Linked DNA regions of Homo sapiens. The protein of the gene in region 1 interacts with the protein of each later gene in a biochemical or structural test. Each region holds a gene or a part of one and is shown in the gene's direction. Other genes may lie near its edges. The genes, in order: KCNA5, SYNPO2, USH1C, LDB3, SNTA1, RGS3 and DLG4.

Region 1 (4,574 bases):
CACACTTGTGCACCCAGGACCAAGTTTCCAAATCACACCCTTTGGATAGAGACATTCATTGACAAGAGGTCCTAACTTCACGCATATAAATCTGAAGCAATATGCAGAAACAAAAATAGACAATGAAAACAGACATTCAAAAACACAGCCACTTTATGATAATTTAAAACCAAGAAACTTCTGGAGACTGTGTCTGGCAGTTCCAGACACACACCTTGAAACAGATTCCTCTTGGTTACCAATGCCTGCTAAAACCCTGCAGGGGTTGAGACAGGGCAGGGGAAGATTTCCTAGTGTCCCAACCTAGAAAGATTAATATGTTATATCAGCCATCATCCTGCCTTCTGCAGCAGGGAACTAAAGTTCTCAGGCCAGATGTTGGAGTGAGGGAGTGCTTGTATCAGGAAAAGGGATTATGCATTTCTATAGAGGAGTGAAATATAGGGGACAAGGGCCAAACTCTGATTGTTTGAGTTTGAGTTCCAGCATCATCAGTTTCCACCTGCATAAGCCTGGGTGAGTCTGTCAATCTCTCTGTGCCTCAGTTTCTTCATTTATAAAATGGTGATGATAATAGTACTTACAAAATAGGTTGCTGTAGGAATACACAGAGACAATATTTGTAAAGTGCTGAGAGTGGGCTGGTGCATAATGAGAGCCAAGTAAGTATTGGTTGTTATTATTCCATTCTTGGGAATGCTCCAGCCTTGGAGATTGGACAACCTCCCTGGCTCCCTCTCATAAGCCACCTCCACCCTCAGTCTCCTTCATGGACCTAGATGCAGTTGCTCGGTCCAAGATTCACCAGGCAGGATTAGCCCTCACCAGGATTGTAAAAATCGCTTCTCCCCTTCCCTGCTGTGGTTTTTGCAAATGGGATTCGTTGGAGCGGGTGGAGGGGTTCTGCTGGGTTGAGACCAGACAGCTCATCTCCTGACTAGGCTGCTTGCCTGGGCTGCCACCAGGTCTGTACTGGAAACAGGCTAGGGCATGGGAATCCTGCAGGGTTCCAACCCCCTTGTACATTTTTGTGGATCTGTAGGAAGACGGGAAGAGAGATGCTTCTCCATTGATACATGTATTTCAAGGTCCGTAACTACGTGGCCCCCCTCCCTTCTGTAATCCTTCCCAAAGAAATACCGTTATTTCTCCAAAATAAAAAGGACTGGTGTCTCCCGTCTCTGTCTCTCATACTCCGACTCAGCTCAAAGCCTCGTCCCTTTAGCCCAAGGCACTTCGTTCCTCCTGGAGTCCACTCGGCTTCCAGCGGGTTCCCAGGTGAACTGAAATCCAGAGCTATTCTCATCTGGTTGCCCTGGGAATTTCAGCGCTGTCGGTACAACCTGTTCCTCCATCCTCCCCACTCCTTCCCTCCCTCCGCTGGGCTGCACCCTTCTCAGCCCCTCCTTTCCCTTGCTAGGGGCCCCAGCTGCGCCCTCCGGGGAGACACCCGCTGCCACGAGACCCGGGAGGGGAAGCGGGAGGAGGGGGAGAGGAGGGGAAGGCGGGGGAGGCGCCGAGGGTGGAGGCCAAGCGCGGCGCAGCCAGAGAGGGGCGGCTGAAGGTTGCATCTGCTGGAAGGAGGCTTTTCGGCTGCTTGGTAACGGGCTGCCAGAAGAGAGAGAGGCAGAGAGCAGGGCAGCGGCTTCTTGACGTCAGGGCCAAGCGAGGGGATCGCGCCAGCAACCCCAGCTCTCCCCAGAGAGGGGCCGGCCGACCGCTGGAGCGGAGCCTGACGCCAGGCGCCCGCGGAGCGTGAGTAGGGGGCGCGGGAGCCGGTCAGCTGGGGCGCAGCATGCCCTCTGCTCCCGCGCCATGGAGATCGCCCTGGTGCCCCTGGAGAACGGCGGTGCCATGACCGTCAGAGGAGGCGATGAGGCCCGGGCAGGCTGCGGCCAGGCCACAGGGGGAGAGCTCCAGTGTCCCCCGACGGCTGGGCTCAGCGATGGGCCCAAGGAGCCGGCGCCAAAGGGGCGCGGCGCGCAGAGAGACGCGGACTCGGGAGTGCGGCCCTTGCCTCCGCTGCCGGACCCGGGAGTGCGGCCCTTGCCTCCGCTGCCAGAGGAGCTGCCACGGCCTCGACGGCCGCCTCCCGAGGACGAGGAGGAAGAAGGCGATCCCGGCCTGGGCACGGTGGAGGACCAGGCTCTGGGCACGGCGTCCCTGCACCACCAGCGCGTCCACATCAACATCTCCGGGCTGCGCTTTGAGACGCAGCTGGGCACCCTGGCGCAGTTCCCCAACACACTCCTGGGGGACCCCGCCAAGCGCCTGCGCTACTTCGACCCCCTGAGGAACGAGTACTTCTTCGACCGCAACCGGCCCAGCTTCGACGGTATCCTCTACTACTACCAGTCCGGGGGCCGCCTGCGGAGGCCGGTCAACGTCTCCCTGGACGTGTTCGCGGACGAGATACGCTTCTACCAGCTGGGGGACGAGGCCATGGAGCGCTTCCGCGAGGATGAGGGCTTCATTAAAGAAGAGGAGAAGCCCCTGCCCCGCAACGAGTTCCAGCGCCAGGTGTGGCTTATCTTCGAGTATCCGGAGAGCTCTGGGTCCGCGCGGGCCATCGCCATCGTCTCGGTCTTGGTTATCCTCATCTCCATCATCACCTTCTGCTTGGAGACCCTGCCTGAGTTCAGGGATGAACGTGAGCTGCTCCGCCACCCTCCGGCGCCCCACCAGCCTCCCGCGCCCGCCCCTGGGGCCAACGGCAGCGGGGTCATGGCCCCGCCCTCTGGCCCTACGGTGGCACCGCTCCTGCCCAGGACCCTGGCCGACCCCTTCTTCATCGTGGAGACCACGTGCGTCATCTGGTTCACCTTCGAGCTGCTCGTGCGCTTCTTCGCCTGCCCCAGCAAGGCAGGGTTCTCCCGGAACATCATGAACATCATCGATGTGGTGGCCATCTTCCCCTACTTCATCACCCTGGGCACCGAACTGGCAGAGCAGCAGCCAGGGGGTGGAGGAGGCGGCCAGAATGGGCAGCAGGCCATGTCCCTGGCCATCCTCCGAGTCATCCGCCTGGTCCGGGTGTTCCGCATCTTCAAGCTCTCCCGCCACTCCAAGGGGCTGCAGATCCTGGGCAAGACCTTGCAGGCCTCCATGAGGGAGCTGGGGCTGCTCATCTTCTTCCTCTTCATCGGGGTCATCCTCTTCTCCAGTGCCGTCTACTTCGCAGAGGCTGACAACCAGGGAACCCATTTCTCTAGCATCCCTGACGCCTTCTGGTGGGCAGTGGTCACCATGACCACTGTGGGCTACGGGGACATGAGGCCCATCACTGTTGGGGGCAAGATCGTGGGCTCGCTGTGTGCCATCGCCGGGGTCCTCACCATTGCCCTGCCTGTGCCCGTCATCGTCTCCAACTTCAACTACTTCTACCACCGGGAAACGGATCACGAGGAGCCGGCAGTCCTTAAGGAAGAGCAGGGCACTCAGAGCCAGGGGCCGGGGCTGGACAGAGGAGTCCAGCGGAAGGTCAGCGGGAGCAGGGGATCCTTCTGCAAGGCTGGGGGGACCCTGGAGAATGCAGACAGTGCCCGAAGGGGCAGCTGCCCCCTAGAGAAGTGTAACGTCAAGGCCAAGAGCAACGTGGACTTGCGGAGGTCCCTTTATGCCCTCTGCCTGGACACCAGCCGGGAAACAGATTTGTGAAAGGAGATTCAGGCAGACTGGTGGCAGTGGAGTAGGGAATGGGAGGCTTGCTGAACATGGATATCTACATTATACCGCAGAGTATTTGAAGTCACACTGTAACCTCAGTCTACCCCTCTCCTTTCACTCCTTTCCTCCCTCCCTCGATCCCCCCATTTTCTCTATTCTTTCCATGACACCCAAGGGTCGCCTATTTTTAAAAAGTACCACATTCCATGACGCAGGAGCTGTGGAAATGGTGAGCGCTGTGAGATGGATGTATTTGTAGCCAGTCTCCTATACCCAGCAGAGGGATAACCCAAACAAAAATGACTCTAAATAGCCCAGATCCCAAGAGATTATGTAACTCCTCCATCCATGTGTTCCAAATTTGCTTTACATATGATTGTATTTGTGTATAGGGGAAAATATTATTTTTATGCCTGGTAAGTGGCTTTTTGTACTGTAGTTCAGATAGAGATATTTTGGGTATATTTTCAAGATACATGTTGTATTTATGGAAGAAAGAGTTGTCCTGATGTTTTTCTGTGTTACTTATATTAGAGTCAGAGATCTTGGTATGGGCTGTTCTGTTTCCTGTGTCTCCAAGCCTCTGTCTTTTCTGGGATGTGGTATTGGTGCTTTGTGTCTAGGGCAGAGTATGTTCTTGAAGAAAGGCAAATCTGACTTTTTCTGTGCGCCTTAAACAATTCTTGTAACTTTCTTCAAAAAGCATTTTAATGATATTGGAGGAATACTTCTGATAATTTATTGTCTTTATTTTTATCCCAGGAAATAAAAGGTTACCTTGTTGAGGCAAGTGTTAGTTTTTCTGCAGCTGATACATTTTCTGAAATTTTTAAAAATAGTCTGTCACTGGCTGTTTCTGGTTTTGACATCAGAGCAAACGCATTGACTGGGGTTAGAGGAAATCTGAA
Region 2 (4,655 bases), on another chromosome or scaffold:
ACTGGCATGTCTAAATGGTCCCCATCTGAGTGAGTGTGTGTGTGTGTGTGTGTGTGTGTGTGTGTGTGTGCACCCTCTGATGGGATGGTCAGGGCTGTCCAGGGCTGATTCCTGCCTTGCGCCCTAAGCTGCAGGGAGAGGCTCAAGCCACTGGAGATCCTGAATGGGAATAAGTGGGTTGGAGGAGGAATGAATGTATGGATGCAAATTATTTTCAAAAAAAATTCATAAAATATATGTTAATCACACAAATGCACAGCAATAGATGATGCTGTATGAAATTTCTCAGTGAGCCTGCTATATTTGTGGTGGTTTTGAACTGCATTGTGACAGGAGGTACTCCTTATAATTTTCCTTTTGCAAACATTTATTCCTTGATTGAATCCACCACCACTACAGCTGCCCTCACTCACTGATTCACCAAAAATTGGGTCCATGATTATCTTGTTTTTATTAATCTTTCTTAAATGCATGTGTAGCTGACATTTATTTCCATGTTTAATATTAGAAGTGTTTTAATCTTATTTAAAAGTTTGGTGATGTCTTTGTGACCAGAAATAGACTGTAGTCACTTAACCTTGTTTTTATCAATTAGTCGATGGTAAAATTGGTTTTAAAGTCACAGTTTCCATGAACCTATCTGTGACGTTTTAAGTGAGGACTTACTGTATATAGTGCTTCTTAGTGCTGAAACAGGCAGCGTGTCTGGAAATTTTGTTTGGTACCACAAGTAACACAAACAAACTTTCCCAGGCTCTTCCTTATTTAGTATGTTTTTATGTGGATGAATGTTATGGAAAACAAAAGTATTATAGGAAAATTAAAATGTCCTTTTTGTACATTTTTGGCAGATTGTATTCAGATTTAAAACATTTAAATATTTGGAATATACAAAATCTGCTTTTATATTGGACCACCCAGATTCATGACATGGGATGACAAACTATAAAAATAAGAAACCTGTAGGTGACATTGTACATTTTATGCAGTTGACTAACTGTTGGGTTTGGGTTTAAGAAGATCAGCAGGTAGAAAGAAAACAAAACACGTTAAAATTTAACATACCCAAAACTATGCAATAGATGTAATTATAAGAATGTAGTTTCCAGGAGAAAAATTCATATTCATTTTCTCTCTTTCTCTCTCCCTTTCTGTCTCTTCTCTTCCCCTTTCTCTAAATATATGGTTCAGAAAGGTACTTTTCAGAGCTGGAGGTTTATTAACAAAAAGTTTGTGCTTTCTTTTGTTTCCTCTTATAGGAATAATTCAGCAGAATGCAGACAGAAAAGTAGTAATTTAACTCATTTTAACTCTTTTTTGTCTATTCCATTCATAAATGTGGCAAGTCTCAAAACATTTATTTGAGAGAATCTAATCCTCTAGTAGTTGAATTCCCAACGCTCCTATTTTAGGACGTCATTCATGGCGTGGAGATTAAACCTTCATGTGTCCTTTACTATTTACAGAATTATTAAATGTAAGTTTTTCAATCATACTTATACCATTAACTGCTTGGATTTAATCTGTTAGTGCAAGATAACTTTGGCTCTCCCTTCCGTCCTCCTTTCCCTTATCTCGCCCCACGTGAGGACATTCTCCTGTGTGTGAAGCTGCTTTCCTTTCCTCGAAGGTGGGCCGAGCAAAGGAGAGTGACGCAAGAGTGGGCTGTGTCCTGGATGCTGCGAGCGCCTCTGCCTCCTTGAGAATGAGCCCATTAGCCGCACAAATTCGCAGCAGGCGGCTGGGGCGGCGGCTGGGGCAGCGGCTGCAGCAGCGGCGGACGCTCTGCATTACCCAGTCTTGCGTCCTCGGCAGGCGCCCGAAGCTGAGTGCGCATCCTCTACCGCACCCAAGCTTCGTCTGTCTCGTCAAGCTCTTCATGCTGCCCAACTAAAAGGAAAACATGGGCACAGGGGATTTTATCTGCATTTCCATGACTGGAGGGGCGCCCTGGGGGTTCAGATTGCAAGGTGGCAAGGAGCAGAAGCAGCCCTTACAAGTTGCAAAGGTAGGACCTGAACGAAGTGTCACGGCTCTGTGCTAGGAAGGAAGGAATGAAAGCAACCTGCTGATGGTGTTTTCAGGTTCTGATGCAGAAGTCTAAGTATTATTTGATTTTGCTGCGGATATTAAGATTTTTCTAGGAAGTGAGTTATTTTCTAAGAAACTTTGGAGAGTAATGGGCCACATCCTATGTAATTAACTTGCAATCGATGAGGGGTGGGTGGGAAGAATGCCATATTTATCAGCTGAGGAAAAGGCCTAGTTAACCATGTTCTTCTGACAACAAGCAAGACACTGGGGAGCGTTTCTTCCAGGCAATTTTAGAATGTTCAGTTGAGTTATTGTTTGATGTCACTTCACTTGGCTCTGGCAGAGGAGAAACGCTCAGTTCAGCATAACGACTTTGCTTGGCTATTTTGGGGACTCATATAGAGTGTTGGTAGTGACATTTATTATGCAGCATTCATGAAAAGGCCAATGTTGGGCAATAATTTTAAAAGTATGATGAAGTGTCATAAAATCTATTTAAAAGAATACCCTTTTAAGGATTTGACAAATAAATGCAAAAATCCAATAAATGCTGTATTCCTTCTTATGTACTCTTTTGGTCAAGATCTCAAAAATAAACTTAGAAGATAATCTAAATATATTATGAGTAACTAAGAGGTAACTTTGTAACACATTAATAACTATTTAAAATGCTTTAAGTTTTTATTGCCATTAGATTGCCTGCATTACTGGTTAGCCCAAGGGGATCTGGTATTCTCTAATTGGCATTCAGCTAAAATAAAACTTAAAATGCACAAAACTAAGCAAACTTTTACCTAACCTTATCATCAAATTGCAAATTATAGTATTGTATTGAAGAACATGCAAGAGCATGGGATTAATTTCCTATTTTATGCTTATATTAAAAATGGGTACAGATCTTTATGAAATACATGGGCCATTGCCTTTGTAGTTATTGTTTGTTTCCCTCTGGCTTTTACTCTTTTTTTTTTGTAGTTATTGTTTCCCTCTGCCTTTTACGTTTTTTTTTTTTTAGTGTCCTTTGCGAAGAAAGAAGTTTCTTTGAAACTCCTTTTTGCTTCCAGGCATCATATGTAAATCCTTTCGTAATGTGATGGTGGAATCCTGCCACCTAGTGAAAATTGCAAACATCAAGAATGAACCATAAAACAGTAGATGAAAAGCAGAGTTTTTATTACTGGAAAGTTCCTCCGAGGTCTGCAGTTCAACCCATGAATTTTAGATGAGGAAAGAGCCCAGAGATGTTAAGTAACTTGCCTTAAGTTTTCAGCTTGGAACTGGCAGAGTGATTAAAGGCTCAGAAAGGTGGTTTTGTTGGGTTCCTTTAGGAGTCAATAGCAGGCAACCTCAGATAAAATATGAATGCCCAATTTAGCATATGTAGAATTCATGACACTGAAGCAGATTTGTCCTGAGTCTAGAATAGCAGTTGGCTGGCTCTAGGTATGAGATTTGGGTTCTAATTCCAGCTCTGATCTAACTTGCAGCCTGGCCTTAGGAAAATCTCTCACCCTTCCTGTCTCATCGGTTTCTCTCTCTCTCTCTCTCTCTCTCTCTCTCTCTCTCTGTGTGTGTGTGTGTGTGTGTGTAGGGAGAGAGAGACAAATATTTTAACTTAGGTGGTAAAGAAGTAAGAAAGAAATTGGACTGTGCAGTCTACGAAGCTCTGTCTTGCCCAAGTATTCTACGATCCTGATAGTGTACAGTTTTAGAATCGCTTGCCTACTAATTGAAATATGGGGACAGAGTGGCTGAGTGCTGTTGTTCTCTGGTGGCTCTTTGGCAGCCAGGCCTCAAGAATAGAGTGGGTAGTGGGTTTCTTCTGAGTTCTGCATGTGACGATTTCAATGTGGGACCTCTTTGCGGCGATTCACTGAAGAGCTGAAGCAGATTGCTAGGAAAGGGTGCTGTGGAGATTCTCTGCTAATGGCATCTCTATTTTCAGGATTCAGTAAGGTTGTTAGGCTATGTCAGAATCCAGTCCTACACTCCCCCTAAATCATCCTTCCTAAAATACCCAGCAATACATTTGTGGTTTTCAAAAGATCATTATTAAGGCATCTAGATGTTTGCTTTGCTTTTGTAGTTTGTGATACTATACTTAGAGCTATAGATTTTAAAATATCATTATAAAAGTATCTGGAAGTTTGCCTTAATTTTTGTGTGTTTGTGTGTGCAAGAGAGAGAGAGAGACAGACTGTAGTCTACAGTCTACCTTTTGTCCATACGTTAAAAAGACTAAAGAGCTATCTATAGAAGATGTAAGTTCTAAATTACTGTGGCAATGCACAATTTTTGTTGGTCTTTTTCTTTTTTTAGTTCAAATGATTATGTTTGATTTCTTATACTAGCATTATTTGTGGGAGAAATCCCTTGGAACAAAGCGCTTATCACTTTCTCTGTTATCAAGGCCATTGCCTCATTAGGATCACTGTATTTTATTTAAAATATTAAGTCAATTCAATTCTATTCATGGTATCTCAATGTGTTCAAGGCAAAGTGAATGTTGCTTGGGCATAAACTTTCTCTTCTTGTAAGGACTGGTGATAGCTTATTAGGGCTGGATGCAAGGAAAGAGACAGAAAGGCTAGAGAGATGGTTGCTGTCAAATCAAATGTTCA
Region 3 (3,568 bases), on another chromosome or scaffold:
CAGAACTTTATCCCCTGCCCCATTATTAGATGGTTAGAAGGTGTCTGTGTCCATCCTTCACTCTCTGGAAGGTCTTCCTGATGTCTAACTGCATTCACTCATACTGTGCCTCTAGGCAGCCGGGACCACAGGCTTTTGTCCCCACGCTGTGGGATCTCCAGGGAGCTTTGGCCTAGACTGTCTCTCTCTGTGATTCCCTGTGTGTCTGTCTCTTGTGTCCTGTGGGTCTCTCTGTCTTCTCTCCTCCTCCCTCTCTGTCTTTCTTTCACCCTTTCCTTCCTTCCTGTCAACATCTTATCTGCCCCCCTCCTTCCCCTTCATCCCGGTCCCCTTTCTCTCTCACTGTCTCCTATTCTTTCTTCCTGTTTCTCTTCATCCCTGTCTCTGAGTCCCTGTTCCTCTGTCCTTGTCATTCTGCATCCATTCTTACCTCTTTGTCTGCCTTTCTCTGTTTCTCTGCCTCTGTGTGGTGTCTCACCTCCATCCTCACCTCATCCCATCACCTCCCCAGCCCTCACCCACCCACCACTCACCCACTCACTGACCATGCCCTGCCTCCCTGTCGTGGCTGGGCCTGCTTGCTCCCCGTGCCCAGCAGAATCTGAGCTCTACACATGTCTTGGAGAAACCAGGGTCTCGCAGCTCCTAATTCTGGAACCCAGGGGCTAGGCAGAACCCGAGGCAGGAGCCCAGTGAAAGGAGAAGCCCCATGGAGCTCTGCCTGGGAGTAACCAAGCCTGTTTTGTGTTTCTTGCTCTGCTCTGTATATATAGAGCTTCTCTTCCCTCCTCCGTAGCTGAAAGCCCCCAACCGGTCCGAAAGCTCCTTGAAGACCGTGCTGCCGTGCACAGACACGGGTTCCTCCTGCAGCTGGAGCCCACGGTGAATAGGCAGGCGGGCCACAGGGCCCTGTGTGTCCCTGCTGCTTGCAGTGGCCATCTGCTGCCCACGCTGTCAGCAGGTTCTTTGGACTGGCGTCTGGAGGGTACACAAGGCGCCATCCCTGAAGTGCTGCCTGGGGCCTGCTGTTGGCCACAGTGGAATTCCTCAGACTCAAAGCCCTCCCCTCAGGGAAGTGGTGCAAAGCCCAGTCTGTAGTACTTGCTTGGGACCCAGGTGTCCTGACTCATCACGGCCCTGGGACCTGCTTTGGGTCCCAAGCAGCACCCAAATGAGCAGGATGAAGCCCTGGGCAACATTCTCTGAGGGACACAGACAATGCCTCGAACCAGGCATGTGGGGCTGAAGGAGCCCACAGGAAGCCTGGCTGGAATTGCCCCCAAGAGATGTCCTCAACAGAATGTGAAAATTCCCCTTCCTGTGAATGCCAACCTCCTGGGAGCTCTTGCTCCACCATGGCCCCCACACTTGGCCAGAACCAGGGCTATTAAGAGGTTTTGAAGGCTGGTCCAAAGAACCAGGGTTGGTGGATTAGAGTTGCTCATGTCCTGTTGTGCCCTGTCATGGCCTGAGCCGTGCTTAGACCAAACGGTCTTCTCTGCCTTCTCCCTTCCTTGGCTCTGGGCTCTATCTGTGGGATATACCGTGGAACCCAGCTGTAGGATGTGTTTCTCACCCTGTGATAGGGATGTGCCCGTGGACAGAGCTGGCAGGTGGCTGTGAAACTGGTGTTTGGTGTGGCCTGAAGCCACAGATGGCAGCATCTGGGGCAGACCCAAGCCTGGACTTGACTTTTCTGTTACAACTTTCCCAAAACATTAGGGCCTCATGCTCCCAAGACACTTGGCCGGGTAGACCATGGCTTCTGGGGTGGCCTGCATGGCCCTATGTTTTCTGTTACTTGCCTTTTGCAAAGGACTCTTGCCCCTGTTCCTCCCAGTCTCCTCCTTCCCCCATCCCAGGTGTCCCTCCCGCTTTCTCCCTGGCCTCCTGTGTGCTGTGGCTGTGGCTGGTGTGTAGCCACTTGGGGCCTGCACCCAGAGGGGTCTCCAAAGGGTGGCAGGGCCTTGTGCTGCCAGAGTGGGTACTCCCCCTTGTGGGGCCTTGCTCTGGCTGGGCTGAGTGTGCACCCACAAAGCCTGTATCCACCTGGGCTGTTTCCACTTCCCTGCAGGACCTTCTTCTGAAGTCCAAAAGGGGAAACCAAATTCACCGTTAGGAAACAGTGAGCTCCGGCCCCACCTCGTGAACACAAAGCCTCGGATCAGCCTTGAGAGAGGCCACACTACACACACCAGATGGCATCCTTGGGACCTGAATCTATCACCCAGGAATCTCAAACTCCCTTTGGCCCTGAACCAGGGCCAGATAAGGAACAGCTCGGGCCACTCTTCTGAAGGCCAACGTGGAGGAAAGGGAGCAGCCAGCCATTTGGGAGAAGATCTCAAGGATCCAGACTCTCATTCCTTTCCTCTGGCCCAGTGAATTTGGTCTCTCCCAGCTCTGGGGGACTCCTTCCTTGAACCCTAATAAGACCCCACTGGAGTCTCTCTCTCTCCATCCCTCTCCTCTGCCCTCTGCTCTAATTGCTGCCAGGATTGTCACTCCAAACCTTACTCTGAGCTCATTAATAAAATAGATTTATTTTCCAGCTTATAGGAGTGAGTGTGGATTTGGGCAGCAGATTCAAGGCTGCAAATCAAAAAACCATAAGGTTTGTGGCCCCTATTCAAGGGTGATAGACAGATCCCAGTGCTGTGATCTGGGTCTGACATGAAGGGTGTGATCAAATGGCCAGGGCTGGCTTGGAGCAGAGGTTGAGAAAGCAGGAGATGGGCTGGGCTGGGCTTCAATGTCTTCTCAGCAGAGATGGTAGGAGATGAAGTCTGTGTGGCAGGGATTTTGCTCAATTCCAGAAAGCAGAGCTGAAGGCAGGAGCCCCGAAGGGTCACCTCATGATATGGGGTGCCCAGCTTCTTTCAAGAACGACACAGCCACCAATGCTTCTCCTGAGGTCACCACGACAGCATGTGAGGGAGGAAGATGGCAGGGTCCACTCCCTCCGTGGAAGCACATCCCACAGAAGCTCATGGGAAATGCAAGGGCTTGAGGCAGGAAGGCATAACTCCGGGGGCCCAGCAGGGGGAATGTCACAGTTCTTCTGGTGACAGGGACCAGGGCTGCTAGCTCTGAGGAAGAGGGTGGGGCTGTATCAGCACGACTCGCCTGACCCCGTCTCTGTTTCCCCATTCCAAATTCCTGTGGTACAATCTGATCAGGCCAAATCACCTGAGCGGGCGACCCTTGGGTTAGGGACCAGTCACAGGTCCAATCAGCTGTGGCCGGGGGTGGGGTCACATCCCACCCAACATGGCTGCTGAGGCAGCAAGGACCGTGGGCAGCAAGTCATGATCACCACCCCTACCAGAGGATGACTATGACATCTCTCCTCCCCCACCAAACCCTGGGTATGGAAAGGAAGTGGACTGGGGTCCCAAGGGAAGGCAGTCTTAGGGAGAGTGCCTCTGTGTGAGGGGACCACAGGAAAACCCCTTCCTGAGGTGGGACACTGCAGAGAGCCCCTCGGGGACACACCCACTGCCCATCCCCCAGGTTCAGCCCTATGTTCAGCTGAATCCCCCACTTCATCCCACAGTGGATGCAGACT
Region 4 (4,059 bases), on another chromosome or scaffold:
TTTTTAACCAGAGTGTCTCAAGGTAAATTTTGGAAATGTATGAAATATCTGTACAGTTTTTACTTGAATAATTTTTATAGACTTCTGACATAGGATGACCCTAGTCATAAAGTTTACGGCCATATACTTTTGGTTCCACACTTCGCTTCCATACCCCGCCATCTGTGGGACACACTGTATTCACTCTGTGTGTCGGTTTGCTAGGGCTGTCTTGACAAATTACTGCAAACTGATGGCTCAAACAACAGAAATGAATGCTTTCACAGTTCAGGAGGCCAGAAGTCCTAAATCAAGGTGCTGACAGGAGGCCATAGTCTCTCTCCGAGCTACTAGCGGTTGCTAGCAATCCTTGGCATTTCTTGGCTTGCAGCTGTGTAACTCCAATCCCTGCCTCCATTGTCACAAGCCTGTCTCCCCTCTGTGTGTGTCTTCACATGACATTCTCCTCTGAGTGTGTCTGTCTCTGTGTGGGTCTCCTTTTTTTTTTTATTTTTTTTTTGAGATGGAGTTTCCCTCTTGTTGCCCAGGCTGGGGTGCAATGGCGTGATCACAGCTCACGGCAAACTCTGCCTTCTTGCACGTGAATTTTGTGGAATACAATTCAACCCCTTAACACTCTGATTTTCTAGCTCTTTGAACAGATTCTCTAGTTGTCTTTTAGGGTGTTTTAAATACATCCCCTCCAAAAAGAGACAATGGTGTAAGTATACTGGCTTTGGGTTTGTCCCCTGCAGAGTCATAGCTCCCCTGTGTCAGGCACAGCACAGGGGTCTCTGAACCTTACATTCAAGCCATGGCTTGTCTAGTCCTGAGGCACTGCCTGCACATCTGGTTACCCAACTTCTGGAAGGATCCAAGAGACTTGGGGAAGGTCCAGGAAGACAGTGGCACAGAAGGCCTGTTTTCCATGGGCAGGCTGATGAGAGGTCTGTGTCACATGCAGAGGGAATCGTGGCAAAGGTGAGTGTGGGTCTGCTTCTGCAAGCCTCGCAATTTCAGCTGAGTCACAACAGCAAAAGTCCAAGAGAGAGACCAGAAGAAGGCGTAAAGCTTGGGGTGGCTAAGGCTGATATTACAAATAAGTTCCAGAGAGTGAAGTCCAGCCTGTGAGAGGCCCATAGCACTGCCCTTTAGAGGATCAACATGGAGATCGTTAGGTCTCCCTCCAAACCAGCCTGCATGATACTCACTGCTCTGTCAACATATAGCAAAGTGGAACATGGTTCTTTTGTTTTTTTTTTTTTTTGAGACAAAGTCTTGCTCTGTCGCCAGGCTGGAGTGCAGTGGTGCGATCTTGGCTCACTGCAACCTCCACCTCCCAGGTTCAAGCAATTCTCTGCCTCAGGCTCCTGAGTAGCTGGGATTATAGGCGCCTGCCACCACACCTGGCTAATTTTTGTATTTTTAGTAGAGACGGGGTTTCACCATCTTGGCCAGGCTGGTCTTGAACTCCTGACCTCATGAGCCACCCACCTCGGCCTCCCAAAGTGCTGGGATTACAGGTGTGAGCCACCACACCCAGCCGGAACATGGTCTTAACATTAGGAAGAAATCTTTTGATTGGAAAACTTTGAGGGACTTGAGGGATTTTTTTTTTTTTGGTCCTCTTTCTATCACTTCATATTTCCAAATCACTTTTGATGAGCATGTATTTTCCTGTAACTTCCAAAAAATTAGTAAGAGAAAGATCTGGGGTAGCTCTCCCAGCTGATGTGCTGTTTTCTAACCAGTGAGATCTCAGGATAGCACATTCTTTAGACTAACTCAGTTTACCAAATATTCCTGGCATTTGGGCAGTACAAGAGTGTTCCAGAACAAGTCTCTACCCTGACGGAATCTAGAATCTTGAAAGGTGAACAAAGCAACAGATGTGAGCAATTCAAAAGTAGAACAGGACAGTATCCCTCAAGTCCAAAGCATATAAAGTGAAGGCTGGGAGCCTGAGAAGTGCACTGTGGGTCAGGGTGAAAGTTAAGCTTCTGTCTGGCGTCGACACTTGAGTTCCAATGGAAAGGGTCCGACCTTAGTGGAGGAAAAATGTCTTACCCATCCCTCTTTTGCTCTAAGTCTTGCCCTTCCCCACTGGTGTGGGTATCAGGAGGGGATGGGCAGTAATATAACTTTTGTAGGCAGACCTAGGGGCTGCTGCAGCTGGCCTAGTTTATTACCCTAACTCTGCTGGGACTTGCAGTCAGCACTGTCCATGGTCGCTACCCTTTTATAGCCAGGCCCTGATGTCACCCAGCCACAGAGCCTGGGGGTTGGACCATCCCTGTTGCCCCCTGTGCTGGGTGGGCAGAAGGCCTCCTCCACTATGAAGCCACCTTGCACCAAGAAGACACTGGGCACAACTCCTTATGAGGGTTCCCACCCTCAGCCCCATCTCACCTATGAGCCATCTTTGAGGTTCTGTCCCTTTCTCATTTGTTGGTCTTCAGTCCCTGGACACCTTCTCTCCCCAGCCTGACTCATCCCAAAGTTCTCACAAGCAACCAGCATTGTCCCAGTCCAGGTATGGTCTCCCACCCACAGCTGCAGTCATTGACAGGCTGACTCATTCCAGAGATGCCTTTCTGTCTTCCCTAAAGCCCATTCTCACCAGTTAGATCTTGGATGTCCATCTTTTTGCATAGTCTTTAAATTGTCACCAGCAGCTTGAGGCCTCCACACGAGCCTGGTTATACTCAGCATCACTGCATCCACCTGGGATGTTTTCAAACACTTTTGCAGCTCATTGGCTCCCAGAACCCAATTGGAAGCCCTGTGTGATCCTAGGTATAACGTCCCCAACTGGACCATCAGAGCCTTGCACATGGGGCTAGCGTGGTGCCCTTTTCCTCTCCAACTCTCTTGGACTGAATACATGCATATTGCCCCAAGCTCAACTCAAGGGGGTGATTTCTCTGTCTCCATGGGGGATACCTGTATGTGGGGACTCCACGTGCACTCCTCTTGATGTCAGTGTCCTGGAGATGGCTCCCAATTCTGCCCCCCAGCAGGGATCTTCACTGCCCTCTCCTAAGCTGGGACCCATGCCAGCCAATGTGATTTCCTGGCAGACTCTGACCTACTGGCATATTGCCAACCCAGGGCCCAGCTTACATACTAGTAGTCCAGCAAACTCAGAGGGCTACATCTGTACAAACCCATGAACCCAGATCAATTTCAAGTAAACACAGTCCCTTTCTTCTATGGGGTAGGGGAAAAATTAGCATAGAACTGGAGTCTTACAGACATGGACAGAGATTCCCAGCCTACAACTTACTAGGTCTGTGACTTAAGGAAGACGTATGGGCCCTCTGAGCCCCAGTTTTTTCAGCTGTGAAGTGGGAGAAAGGCTTACCTACCTTATAAGGTTTTCATGAGAATTAAATGAGCTGCTGTATATAGAGTGTCTGGCATCCTGCTTGGTCCATGGTAGTCCCCACAAATATTAATTAGTTCTCTTCTTTCTGGGATGCCTCCAGCCTCAGACTATATGTTGTCATCATGGGGATATAGAATTTCATCTCTTGGGCTGGGCGTGGTGGCTCACGCCTGTAATCCCAGCACTTTGGGAGGCCAAAGCAGGTGGATTGCTTGGGGTCAGGAGTTTGAAACCAGCCTGGCCAACATGGTGAAACCCTGTCTCTACTAAACTACAAAAAAAATTAGCTGAGTATGGTGGTGGGCGCCTGTAATCCCAGCTACTAGGGAGGCTGAGGCAGGAGAATTGCTTGAACCCGGGAGGCAGAGGTTGCAGTGAGCTGAGATCGCGCCACTGCACTCCAGCCTGGGTGACAGAGTGAGACTCCATCTCAAAAAAAAAAAAAAGAATTTCATCTCTTTTGTTTTTTTGTATATTTCTCTGCATACTTTTCCATATCTACCTTTTTTTTTTTTTTTTTGAGACGGAATCTCGCTCTGTCGCCCAGGCTTGGGTACAGTGGCATGATCTCAGCTCACTGAAACCTCCGTCTTCCGGGTTCAAGTGATTCTCCTGCCTCAGCCTCCTGAGTAGCTGGGATTACCAGTGCGCACCACCACACCCGGCTAATTTTTGTATTTTTAGTAGAGACA
Region 5 (3,212 bases), on another chromosome or scaffold:
GATCACGGGGTCAGGAGATCGAGACCATCCTGGCCAACATGGTGAAACCCCATCTCTATTAAAAATACAAAAATTATATGGGTGTGGTGGCGTGTGCCTGTAATCCCAGCTACTTGGGAGGCTGAGGCAGGAGAATCACTTGAACCTGGGAGGCAGAGGTTGGGCCATTGCAGTGCAGCCTGGGTGACAGAGCGAGGCTCTGTTTCAAAAACAACAACAAAAACCCCACAAAATATATGAACACGTGTGTATATGTCACACTCGCTTGTTCCTATGCCCCATGAAGCCCCAGCAACTGTGGCTGGAGCCCAGCAGTGAGGGTTGCTCCTGATTCTCTCACGGACATCCCCCTGGTTTCTCCTGGTTTGGTGGTGGGTGGGGTTTCTTGGGCCAGGGTTGGGCAGCTGCAGCCTAATGGTCAGGTCCTTGTCTCCACCCATTTGTGCCTGCAGGTATCTGGAGATCTGCTCGGCAGATGGTCAAGACACCCTCTTCCTGAGGGCCAAGGATGAGGCTAGTGCGAGGTCGTGGGCGACTGCCATCCAAGCCCAGGTCAATACTCTGACGCCGCGGGTCAAGGATGAGCTGCAGGCACTGTTGGCAGCCACCAGCACAGCTGGGAGCCAGGACATCAAGCAGATTGGCTGGCTAACTGAGCAGGTACCTGCTGGGCCTGGGACCTATCCCTCTCTCTCTTCCGCTCCTTTGGAGCTGGCCCTGTTCCCAGTGCCCCTGGCCACCTCACCCTGCCCTGGCCCTCTGCCCTCTCTTCCCCCACCCATCCTCACTGCTGTTTTGTTCTCTGCAGCTGCCCAGTGGGGGCACAGCCCCCACCCTGGCCCTGCTAACTGAAAAGGAACTGCTCCTCTACTTGTCTCTCCCCGAGACCCGCGAGGCCCTGAGCCGGCCAGCCCGTACTGCCCCACTCATCGCCACCAGGTACCCACAGGCAGGGGCAGTATGTCTCCCCCAGAACTTGCCAGGAGATGCTCCAGCAGGGCCCCAGAAGCTGGGAACTCCAGCCCTGTCCACCCTCAGCTATTCCCCAGGTGACCTGAAGCAAGTCTCTGCCCTGTCTGGGCCTCAGTTTCCTCATCTGTAAAATGGGTGCTTGGAACAAAAGGATATAAGGTCCCCATTAGCCACTCATTCGCTGACACTTATGCCTTGTGCTGCATGGTTCAGAGGGCACAGAGCTGACCCCAACAGTTTCTGCCTCCAGAGAGAACCTTGTCTGGCTGGGGAGACAGACCCAGGAACAGCCATTACAGTGCAGGGTTTGTAGGAGCCACTTAACTCTGTTGGGGTAGTAGAGGAAGGCTTCAGGGAGGAGGTGACATTTGAGCTGGACTTTGATGGATGAGTAGAAGTTTTCTGTTTAAGAAAGGGTGAAAGAGCATCCCATGCAGAGAGAACATCATGGTCAAAAGTACAGAGGCATGAAGGGCTATAGCATGTTCATGGAGCTATGAGTTTGTGATAACCAGAATTCATGCAGGAAATGGAGAGAAGGGAGTTGGCAGGGCCTGATCTTGAAGAGCTTCTATTGCCTGATTAAGGAATGTTAGCTTTAGCTTAAGAGTTTGGTAGTGTTGAAGGGTTTAAGCTGGGGAGCGAGGTGCTCTGGTTGCTTTAAGAGAATCCCTGTGGCTGCCACGTGGAGAATGCAGCGGAGAGTGCAGGATGGAAGTGGGGAGGTGCTGCAGTCATGCAGGAGAGATGATGGTGGCTGGGGGAGGTGGAGGTGGGTGGCAGGAGCAGATGGGGAAGAAAGGCAGCATTGGCATTGGAAACCACATGGGTGTAAAATTAACAGGGCTCCGTGCTTGCCAGATGGGGCGGGTGAAGGAGGGGTCCGGAATGAACAGGAGGTTTGGAGCTTGTGTCTGGGTGAGCGTGGGACTGGGGGTGGGGGTGGAAAGGGAGGAGGCTGGAGCAAGATGCTGAGTTAAGTCCAGAGTGTGTGTGGGATGGAGAGGGAGCTTGGATAGGAAGCCTGGGGACTCGAGGGTCTGCAGCTCAGGGCTGGAAAGTCGAAGGCGGGTGTCAGCAGCAGTCTGTGGCGGGGGGAACTGAGCTATAGGAGAAAGAGTGGGTGGAGGGAGGAACAAAGAGGGATATGGGGCAGAACTTTCTGCCCCAGAGAGGGGCAGTTGGCTTACCAAGGCCACACAGCAAGTGAGAGTCAAGCTGCAGGGGTCTGAAGTCCTTGTCCCCCATGTCTCCTTACCTCAGGCTGGCTCTGGCCCGTGTGTCAGGAGCCTGCTGGCTACTAGGGATAACTAGGTCCTGGACTGTCTGCCTAATCAAGTGATTCAAGTTAGGCAACAAAAGTTTACTGAGCACCTACTGTGGGCAGGCATGGTTTTAGTTACTGGGAATACAGTGGTGAACACAAGATCAAAATTTCTAACCTAGTTGACATTCTAGTGAAAAAGACAGTCAAAAACCAACGAAAACAAATAATAAAAAGTATAATTTCTGGTACCATGATTAAAAAGTAAGGCTAGTGAGTGACAAGGGTGCTATTTTGGACTGGGAGGTCAGGGAAGGCTTCTCAGAGGAGGTGACATTTAAACTAACATCTGAAGGAAGTGAGGGAGTGAGCCGTGCAGATAATCAGGGAAGCATGTATAGGCAGAGGGAAGAGCATATGCAAAGGTGCTGAGGCAGGCATGTGCTAGGTGTGTGTGATGACACCAGTATAGCCAGAGCCAAGGGAGTGACGGGGAGGGTGGCAGGAGATGTCTCCTGCTGAGTCAATCAGTGCCCCCTGGCAAGTCCTGTCCTGTTAGGTGGTAAAGGATTTACAGGGTTTCTTCCCAGGTCACTGGCCCCTTTGCCCAGAACTATTTGCCTCCGGCCTGAGGCCTCATGCTCAGCCCTCTGCCCCCAACCCCCAGACTGGTGCACTCAGGCCCCTCCAAGGGCTCAGTGCCCTACGATGCAGAGCTCTCTTTTGCCCTGCGCACGGGCACGCGTCACGGTGTGGACACTCACCTGTTCAGCGTGGAGTCACCGCAGGAGCTGGCTGCCTGGACCCGCCAGCTTGTGGATGGCTGTCACCGGGCCGCCGAGGGTGTGCAGGAGGTGTCTACAGGTGTGCTGGGAGGATCTGGGAGTGTCCCTCTGGTAATAAGCCTCTTATCCCCAGGGGCATTCAAGCTTCCTTCTTTAGGGCACTTCAGGAGGGGATAGAAAATGGGGTTTGG
Region 6 (4,059 bases), on another chromosome or scaffold:
TATATTTCTAAATTTCTAAATATTGGGGATTTTCTGGTAATATTTTTATATTTACTTTGCATTTTAGTCAGAGAATATACTCTCCATCCTTTTAATTCCTTGAAATTAATCAAAATTTACTTGATGCCTCAGCATATAGTTGTTTTTTTTTTTTTTTGTCGTTGTTGTTTTGAGACTGAGTCTTACTCTGTCACCAGGCTGGAGTGCAGTGGCGCAATGTAAACTCACTGCAGCCTCCCCTTCCTGGATTCAAGCAATTCTCCTGGCTCAGTCTCCCATGTAGCTGGGATTACAGGCACCCACTACCATGCCTGGCTAATTTTTGTATTTTTAGTAGAGATGGGGTTTTACCATGTTGGCCACACTGGTCTCGAACTCCTGACCTCAGGTGATCCACCTGCCTTGGCCTCCCAAAGAGTCAATTTTTATAAATGTTCTTTGTGTATTTGAAAAGGATTCTGCAGCAGTTGGGTGCAGTGTTCTTTGTGTATGTCAAGTTTAGGTCAAGTTTGCTCTTTATATTGTTCAAATATTCCGTATCCTTGTTGATTTTTCCTGTTTTCTCTGTCAGTTCCTAAGAGAGGTGTATTAGAATTCCCACTGTGATTGTAAATTTGTCTATTTCCCATTGCAGTTCTGTCAGTTTTTCCTTTACATATGTTGAAGCTATGTTAACAACATACAGATTTAGAATTATTATCTTTCTGGTGAGCTGAAATTTTTATTATGAAATCTATTATTGTTATGAAGTCTTCTTTATTTCTAGTAGGTATAAAGTCTAATTTTCCTGATATTAACATAGCTAACCATGCTTCTTTCATTTAATATTTGCCTGACATATCTTTTTCCATCCTTTTTCTTTCAACCTTTTTGGATCTACATTGTAGGTGTGCTGTGTCTGCTGCAAAGAACAGGCACATGGCTGGGAGTGGTGAGTGGCCCATGCTTATAATCCCAGCACTTTGGGAGGCCAAGGCAGGAGGATCACTCAAGCCCAGAAGTTCGAGACCAGTGTGGGCAACATAGTGAGAGCTCATCTCTACAAAAAATAAAAAAATTAGCTGGGCATGATGGTGTGCACCTGTGGTCCTAGCTACTTGGGAGGCTGAGGAAGGAGGATCACTTGAGCCTAGGAGGTCAAGACTACAGTGAGCTGTGATTGTGATACTGTACCCTAGCCTGGGTGTCAGAGTGAGACCCTGACTCAAAACAAACAAACAACAAACAAACAGTATAGGCAGAGAGTTGTTGTTATTATTATTATTTTCTTCTCAATGCAGACCTAGGATGATATTTTCCTTCAAAAAATCTTTGTTCGTTTGTCAGGTGCCTAGGGTCACTGGGTTAGTCTTAATTCAGTGTTGGGACTGAGAGTACTTGAAATCGAGCTGTAGTCCCTGGAGTAGCTGTGTCTGATTACAGTTCACTCTATTCCTATGGAGCAACCCTTCAGGGTCCCTATGCAAAAGGTGGGGCTCAGAAGAACCCTGCTTCTTGGTGGGCCCTGGTCCCTAGTTCCTATTCCTCTAGCCCTGAGAAGCAGGCAGAAACTCACTCAGTCTCTTGATCTCTCAATCAGCCCTCTGGAATTTGAAAACACCCCAGGAGGAAATTAGCCCAGAAAAACACTAGGTTTCCTTCTACAGTCCTCCATTCCCCTAGATCCTGCCTGGTAGCTCCTCTCTCTCTTGTTGTTTATCTAAGAAGATGCTTTAACATATTTTGTTTAGCATTTCTAGTTTTCCTCAGTGGATCTGTCATCCCAGAAATGGAAGTCCCCTACATATATTTTCTAAGCTTTTTTGAGTTGGTTTTTGTTTTTTTTTCCCTCCCTTTCTGCCTCTCTCCCTCCTTTTCTCCTCCCTCCCTGCCTCTTCCGTCCCTTCCTCCCCTCCCCGCTCTCTCTCTCCGTCCCTCCTTTCTTTCTCCCTGCCTGCCTGCCTACCTGCAGTTGTCCGAGCAGGCATTACTGGGGCTGGAGGGTCCCTTTCCAAGATGGCTCATTCACATGGCTCTCAGCAGGAGGCCTCAGTTCCTTGCTACCTGTAATTAGGAGGCTTCTGTTTCTCATCGCATGGACCTCTTCGTAGGATTGCTTGAGCTTCCTTATTATGTGGCAGCTGGCTTCCTTCTAGGCAAGTGATACAAAAATGAAAGCAAGAAAGAACTCCCATAAAAAGATGAGTAACCCAGCTCAAAAATGGGTAAAGGATTTGAATAGACATTTTTTTCCAAAGAAAAATGGCTAACAGCATGTGAAAAAATGCTCAATGTCATTAGTTATCAGGGAAATGCAAATCAAAACCACAATGAGATACTATCATACTAGAATGACTATAATAAAAAAAGAGCCAATAACAGGCGTTGAAGAAGTTGAGGGGAAATTGGAACCCTTGTACACTGCCGGCCGGAATGTCAAATGGTGCAACCACTTTGGAAAAGTTTGGCGGTTCCTCAAACAATTAAATGTAGAGTTTCCATTTGACCCAGCAATTCCACTCTTAGGTATAAATCCAAGAGGAATGAAAACACATGCTCACACAAACATGTGTACACACACACATGTTCATAACGGCATTATTCATAGTAGCCAAAAAGTCGAAATAACCTGAAATATCCATCACCAGATGAGTGGATAAACAAAATGTGGTATATCCATACAATGGAATATTATTTGGCCACAAAGGGACTAAAATACTGATACGTGCTACAATATGGGTGAACCTTGAAAACATTATGCTAAGTGAAAGAAGTCAATCACAAAAGACCATGCGTTGTGTGATTCTGTTTACATAAGTATCCAGAATAGGCAAGTCCTTAGAGACAGAAAGCAGATTAGTGGTTGACAAGGGCTGAGGGGAGAAGGGAATAGGGTGTGACTGCGAAAGAGTATGGGATTTCTTTTAGGGGAGGATGAAAATGTTCTAAAATTAGATAGAGGTGATTGATTACAGAATCCTGTGAATATACTAAAAGAAAATTACATGCTTTAAATTGGTGAAGTGTGGCCGTGCACGGTGGCTCAATCCCAGCACTTTGGGAGGCTGAGGCGGGTGGATCATCTAAGGTCAGGAGTTCGAGAGCAGCCTGGCCAACATGGTGAAACTCTGTCTCTACAAAAAATACAAAAAATTGGCCAGGTGTGGGTGGTGCATGCCTGTAATCCCAGCTACTCAGGAGGCTGAGACAGGAGAATAATTTGAACCTGGGAGGCAGAGGTTACAGTGAGCTGAGATCATGTCATTGCACTCCAGCCTGGGCGACAGAGTGAGACTCCATCTCAATAATAAACAAAACTGATGAAATGTATGATATGTTAATTATATCCCAATACAGCTGTTAAAAAAAGAAGGAACTAATAATACCTTTAATATCCTAATGTTGAAAGTCATCCACTGTCATTTCTACCACATTCTATTTGTTAGAAGCAAGTCACTAAGTCCAGCCCATGTCTGAAGGGAGGAACTAGGCTTCACCTCTTGAAAGGAAGAGTATCAAAGACTTTGTGGACAAATTTTAAACCCATGATAGGTATAGAGAGGCTAACAGTGGGGGCCCTGGACTGCCTAAATGCAAACCCCAGCTCTGCCACTTACTGGCTGTGTGATTTGGACAACCTGTTTTAGCTATTTTCTTTTTTTTGAGTTGGGGTCTCACTCTGTTGCCCAGGCTGGAGTGCAGTGGTGTGATCATGGCTCACTACAGCCTCAACCTCCTGGGCTCCAGTGATCCTCCCACCTCAGCCTCCTGAGTAGCTGGGACTACAGGTACACACCACCACGTCCGGCTAATTTTAAAAAAACGTTTTTGGAGAGACAGAGTCTTGCTATGTTGCCTAGACTGGTCTCAAACTCCTGGCCTCAAGTGATCATCCTGCCTCAGCCTCCCAAAGTGTTGGGATTACAGGTGTGAGCCACCATGCCCAGCCAACCTGTTTACCTCTTAATAATCTTCAGCTTCCTTGCCTGTAAATTGGGATAAAAGTAGTAACCATTTCACGGAGTTATTGTGAGGAGTAAAAGAAATAAAAAGCTTATAGTAAAGTGCTGAGTACCTAGT
Region 7 (4,059 bases), on another chromosome or scaffold:
AAGAATGTGGCTATTTGTTGGCTGGGCGAGGTGGCTCATGCCTGTAATCCCAACACTTTGGGAGGCCAAGGCGGGCGGATCACCTGAGGTCAGGAGTTTGAGAACAGCCTGGCCAACATGGAGAAACGCTGTCTCTACTAAAAATACAAAAAAAAATTAGCTGGGTGTGGTGGCGAGCGCCTGTAATACCAGCTAATCCTGAGGCTGAGACAGGAGAATTCCTTGACCCTGGGAGGCGGAGCTTGCAGTGAGCCAAGATCTCACCACTGCACTCCAGCCTGGGCGATAGAGCGAGACTCCATCTCAAAAAAAAAAAAAAAAAAAAACCAAAACAGGCTGGGCGCGCCGGTGGCTCATGCCTGTAATCCCAGCACTTTGGGAGGCCGAGATGGGTGAGTCACCTGAGGTTGGGAGTTCGAGACCAGCCTAACCAACATGGAGAAACCCCATCTCTACTAAAAATACAAAATTAGCCGGGCATGGTGGTGCATGCCTGCAATCCCAGCTACTCAGGAGGCTGAGGCAGGAGAATTGCTTGAACCTGGGAGGCGGAGGTTGCGGCGAGCTGAGATCGCGCCATTGCACTCCAGCCTGGGCAACAAGAGTGAAACTCTGTCTCAAAAAACGACAAAAAAAAAAAGGAATGTGGCTATTTGTAAGATAAATAACAGGAATTAGTAACTTCCCAGCAATAAGAAAATGTAGTGAATAAAAAGCCCCCTTTTGCCATAGAAAAAATTTCTATAAAATTATTAGAAATAGAAACTTGACAAGAAATGTAAGATTTGTATGAAGAAAATGACAAAACTTTACTGAAAGACATAAAACAAGACTGGAAGGGGTGAGGAGTCACACCGTGTCTCTGGATGGAAAAACTTAATATGCTAAAGATCTCAACCGGCTCCAAATTAATCTACATTCCATTCAATCCTAATCAGAATTTTAATGTTGTTTCCCTACTGGGAACTTGGAAGGTTGACACTAAAGTTTGACTGGAAAAATTTGTGTGGAAAAGCTAAGACATTTTGGAAACAAATAATGAGGTGTGGCAGCCCCTACAAAATATGAAATAATACTGTAAAACCATATTAAAATCATGTGGTACTATTCCTAAATACCATAACCTAACAAAAGGAACCTGGGCTCCTTGGAAGAAGGGTCAATTTAAAATCTTTTTTTTTCTTTTCTTTTTTTTTTTTTTTTGAGACGGAGTCTCGCTCTGTCGCCCAGGCTGGAGTGCAGTGGCACGATCTTGGCTCACTGCAAGCTCCGCCTCCCGGGTTCATGCCATTCTCCTGCCTCAGCCTCCCGAGTAGCTGGGACTACAGGTGCCCACCACCACGCCTGGCTAATTTTTTTGTATATTTTAGTAGAGATGGGGTTTCACCGTGATAGCCAGGATGGTCTTGATCTCCTGACCTCATGATCCCCCCACCTCGGCCTCCCAAAGTGCTGGGATTACAGGCCTGAGCCACCGTGCCCAGCCAATTTAAAATCTTTGGCAATAAATCTGTAAGATGAGCTTCTAACTTCTTTCATACTAGAGAGCAAGGAAGGTATCCAGGACTAATAGGGTCTCAGCAAAGACACAGGATCCAAACTGAAGGTGCTTCTACTGTCCAGTGAAAACTCGTTAAATATATTAAAATCTTTAAGATCATAATAATACTTAAAAATATTTTGGCTGGGCGCGGTGGCTCATGCCTGTAATCTCAGCACTTTGGGAGGTTGAGGCAGGCGGATCACCTGAGGTCAGGAGTTCGAGACCAGCCCGCCCAACATGGCGAAACCCCGTCTCTACTAAAAATACAAAAAATTAGCCAGGCGTGGTGGTGGGTGCCTGTAATCCTAGCTGCTGGAGAGGTTGAGGTGGGAGAATCCCTTGAACCTGGGAGGCAGAGGTTGCAGTGAGCCAAGATCGCACCACTGCACACCAGCCTGGGCGACAAGAGTGAAACTCCATCCCAAAAAAATAAATAATTAAAAAAAAAATTGGAGGATGCTAGGCAATCTCATTCATTCTGAAATTGGTGAATGAATGGAAAGAGGCATGCAGAGAGAGGCATGCATTTATCCTCCCTTTCATGTACCAGCTACCTCAGAGAGTAACCAACAGGTTGACATAGGGCTGTTTTTTTGTTTTTGTTTTTGCTTTTTTTTTGTTGGAGGCAGGTCTTGCTTTGTCACCCAGCAGGCTGGAGTGCAGTGGTGTGATCTTGGCTCACTGCAACTTCCGCCTCCTGGGCTCAAGCGATCCTCCCACCTCAGCCTCCCGAGTAGCTGGGATTACAGGCGAGTGCCATCATGCTCAGCTAACTTTTTTTTTTTTTTTTTTGAGATGGAGTCTCACTCTGTCACCCAGGCTGGAGTGCAGTGGCACGATCTTGGCTCACTGCAACCTCTGCCGCCCGGGTTCCAGCAATTCTCCTGCCTCAGCCTCCCGAGTAGCTGGGATTACAGGGCCCTGCCACTGCGCCCAGCTAATTTTTGTACTTTTAGTACAGATGGGATTTCACCATCTTGGCCAGGCTGGTTTTGAACTCCTGACCTTGTGATCCACCTGCCTCGGCCTCCCAAAGTGCTGGGATTACAGGCGTGAGCCACTGCGCCCAGCCTCAGCTAACTTTCAACTTTTGTCTTTTGTAGAGATAGGGTTTCACCATGTTACCCAAGCTGGAGGAATTTTTTTTTTTTTTTTTTGAGAGGGAGTCTCGCTCTGTCACCCAGGCTGGAGTGCAGTGGCACAATCTTGGCTCCTTGCAACCTCCGCCTCCTGGGTTCAAGCAATTCTCCTGCCTCAGCCTCCCGAGTACCTGAGATTATAGACGTAAGCCAGCACGCCCAGCCTATTTTTGTATTTTTAGTAGAGACGGGATTTCACCATGTTAGCCAGGCTGGTCTCAAAGTCTTAACCTCAAGTGATCTGCCTGCCTTGGCCTCCACAGTGCTGGGATTACAGGCATGAGCCATCGTGCCTGGTCGAGATTTTTCTTTTTTACAGAAGAATTCCCACTAGTAAATGACAATCACCACCATTTTGCAGTCCTTGATACTTATCAGAACCAGGCGGTGATTGTCAGTGTGGCTAAAACTTACCTGAAAGGCTGATGGGGCGCTAGATAATGGATGGACTGGGCTGATGACCCTGAACCTACCATTAATCTTACCTGACAGAAAGACAACCAGGCATTATTGCATCCTGTGGTGATGCTGTAGGAAGAACGTAGCGCTACCTATGAAGTATACAGGAGTTACTAAAAAAAACTCTGAATTGAACTTGAAACTGATCAAGCCTCCAGAATGAACTGCCAGTTTACAGGAGATACAGGGGCAGAGGCATAGGCTAAACAAACCACAGGAGGGTAAGCAGTAATTTCCCTGTTAGAATTTCCCTCATAGGCTGGTCAAGGTGGCTCATGCCTGTAATCCCAGCACTTTGGGAGGCATAAGCGGGTGGATCATTTGAGTTCAGAAGTTCCAGACCAGCCTGGACAACATGGTGAAACACTGTCTCTACTAAAAATACAAAAATTAGCTGGGCATGGTGGCGCGCGCCTGTAATCCCAGCTACTTGGGAGGCTGAGGCATGAGAATCACTTGAACCTGGGAGGCAGAGGCTGCAGTGAGCCAAGATCACGGCACTGCACTCCAGCCTGAGACTCCTTCTCAAAAAAACCCCAAAAAAACAAAAGAATTTCCCTCATAGAATGTGGGAAATTCTTTTAGACAAATGACCTAGTTTTTTCAACGAATGGATGGCAGAGAGGTGGGGGGAAAAAAGAGGGAGAAGAATTTTATGGATTAAGAGATTCGAGTGACACAGGAACCCAGAGAAAACCCCCAAAGCGTAATATTAATGCTCCCTTTGACTTCCCCATCCCTGGCATACTGAGGACATATAACGTTCAAATCCTTTATCCCCTAGGACAACCAGCCTCTGATGTCACCTATAAATTCCTGACCCCTGATGTCACTGTGATCTGATATCCCCTTACCACCCCACCCTGGCATCTCTGGCAGAATATCTTCCCTTCCACCTAACTTTGGCTCTTCTGGCAC

Evidence for each region.
Region 2: the proteins of KCNA5 (region 1) and SYNPO2 interact in a test that uses a peptide from one of them, tested with the Homo sapiens proteins (one large-scale study listed by IntAct).
Region 3: the proteins of KCNA5 (region 1) and USH1C interact in a test that uses a peptide from one of them, tested with the Homo sapiens proteins (one large-scale study listed by IntAct).
Region 4: the proteins of KCNA5 (region 1) and LDB3 interact in a test that uses a peptide from one of them, tested with the Homo sapiens proteins (one large-scale study listed by IntAct).
Region 5: the proteins of KCNA5 (region 1) and SNTA1 interact in a test that uses a peptide from one of them, tested with the Homo sapiens proteins (2 studies listed by BioGRID and IntAct).
Region 6: the proteins of KCNA5 (region 1) and RGS3 interact in a test that uses a peptide from one of them, tested with the Homo sapiens proteins (one large-scale study listed by IntAct).
Region 7: the proteins of KCNA5 (region 1) and DLG4 form a complex in vitro, tested with the Homo sapiens proteins (2 studies listed by BioGRID and IntAct, with this or other methods).

What each region holds. Positions count from the first base shown.
Region 1 is NC_000012.12:5,042,333-5,046,906, forward strand, and holds KCNA5 (potassium voltage-gated channel subfamily A member 5), read left to right. Parts: upstream 1-1,546; 5' UTR 1,547-1,815; coding exon 1,816-3,657; 3' UTR 3,658-4,456; downstream 4,457-4,574. UniProt on the Homo sapiens protein: Voltage-gated potassium channel that mediates transmembrane potassium transport in excitable membranes. Forms tetrameric potassium-selective channels through which potassium ions pass in accordance with their electrochemical gradient.
Region 2 is NC_000004.12:118,887,134-118,891,788, forward strand, and holds the start of SYNPO2 (synaptopodin-2), read left to right. Parts: upstream 1-1,720; 5' UTR 1,721-1,903; coding exon 1,904-2,008; intron 2,009-4,655. UniProt on the Homo sapiens protein: Has an actin-binding and actin-bundling activity. Can induce the formation of F-actin networks in an isoform-specific manner.
Region 3 is NC_000011.10:17,492,883-17,496,450, reverse strand, and holds the end of USH1C (harmonin), read left to right. Parts: intron 1-773; coding exon 774-882; coding exon of another isoform or gene 883-1,098; exon of another isoform or gene 1,099-2,038; intron 2,039-2,074; coding exon 2,075-2,119; 3' UTR 2,120-2,551; downstream 2,552-3,568. UniProt on the Homo sapiens protein: Anchoring/scaffolding protein that is a part of the functional network formed by USH1C, USH1G, CDH23 and MYO7A that mediates mechanotransduction in cochlear hair cells. Required for normal development and maintenance of cochlear hair cell bundles.
Region 4 is NC_000010.11:86,727,356-86,731,414, forward strand, and holds part of LDB3 (LIM domain-binding protein 3), read left to right. Parts: intron 1-4,059. UniProt on the Homo sapiens protein: May function as an adapter in striated muscle to couple protein kinase C-mediated signaling via its LIM domains to the cytoskeleton.
Region 5 is NC_000020.11:33,410,023-33,413,234, reverse strand, and holds part of SNTA1 (alpha-1-syntrophin), read left to right. Parts: exon of another isoform or gene 1-452; coding exon 453-660; exon of another isoform or gene 661-808; coding exon 809-939; coding exon of another isoform or gene 940-1,049; exon of another isoform or gene 1,050-2,903; coding exon 2,904-3,100; coding exon of another isoform or gene 3,101-3,132; exon of another isoform or gene 3,133-3,182; intron 3,183-3,212. UniProt on the Homo sapiens protein: Adapter protein that binds to and probably organizes the subcellular localization of a variety of membrane proteins. May link various receptors to the actin cytoskeleton and the extracellular matrix via the dystrophin glycoprotein complex.
Region 6 is NC_000009.12:113,469,759-113,473,817, forward strand, and holds part of RGS3 (regulator of G-protein signaling 3), read left to right. Parts: intron 1-4,059. UniProt on the Homo sapiens protein: Down-regulates signaling from heterotrimeric G-proteins by increasing the GTPase activity of the alpha subunits, thereby driving them into their inactive GDP-bound form.
Region 7 is NC_000017.11:7,197,124-7,201,182, reverse strand, and holds part of DLG4 (disks large homolog 4), read left to right. Parts: intron 1-4,059. UniProt on the Homo sapiens protein: Postsynaptic scaffolding protein that plays a critical role in synaptogenesis and synaptic plasticity by providing a platform for the postsynaptic clustering of crucial synaptic proteins.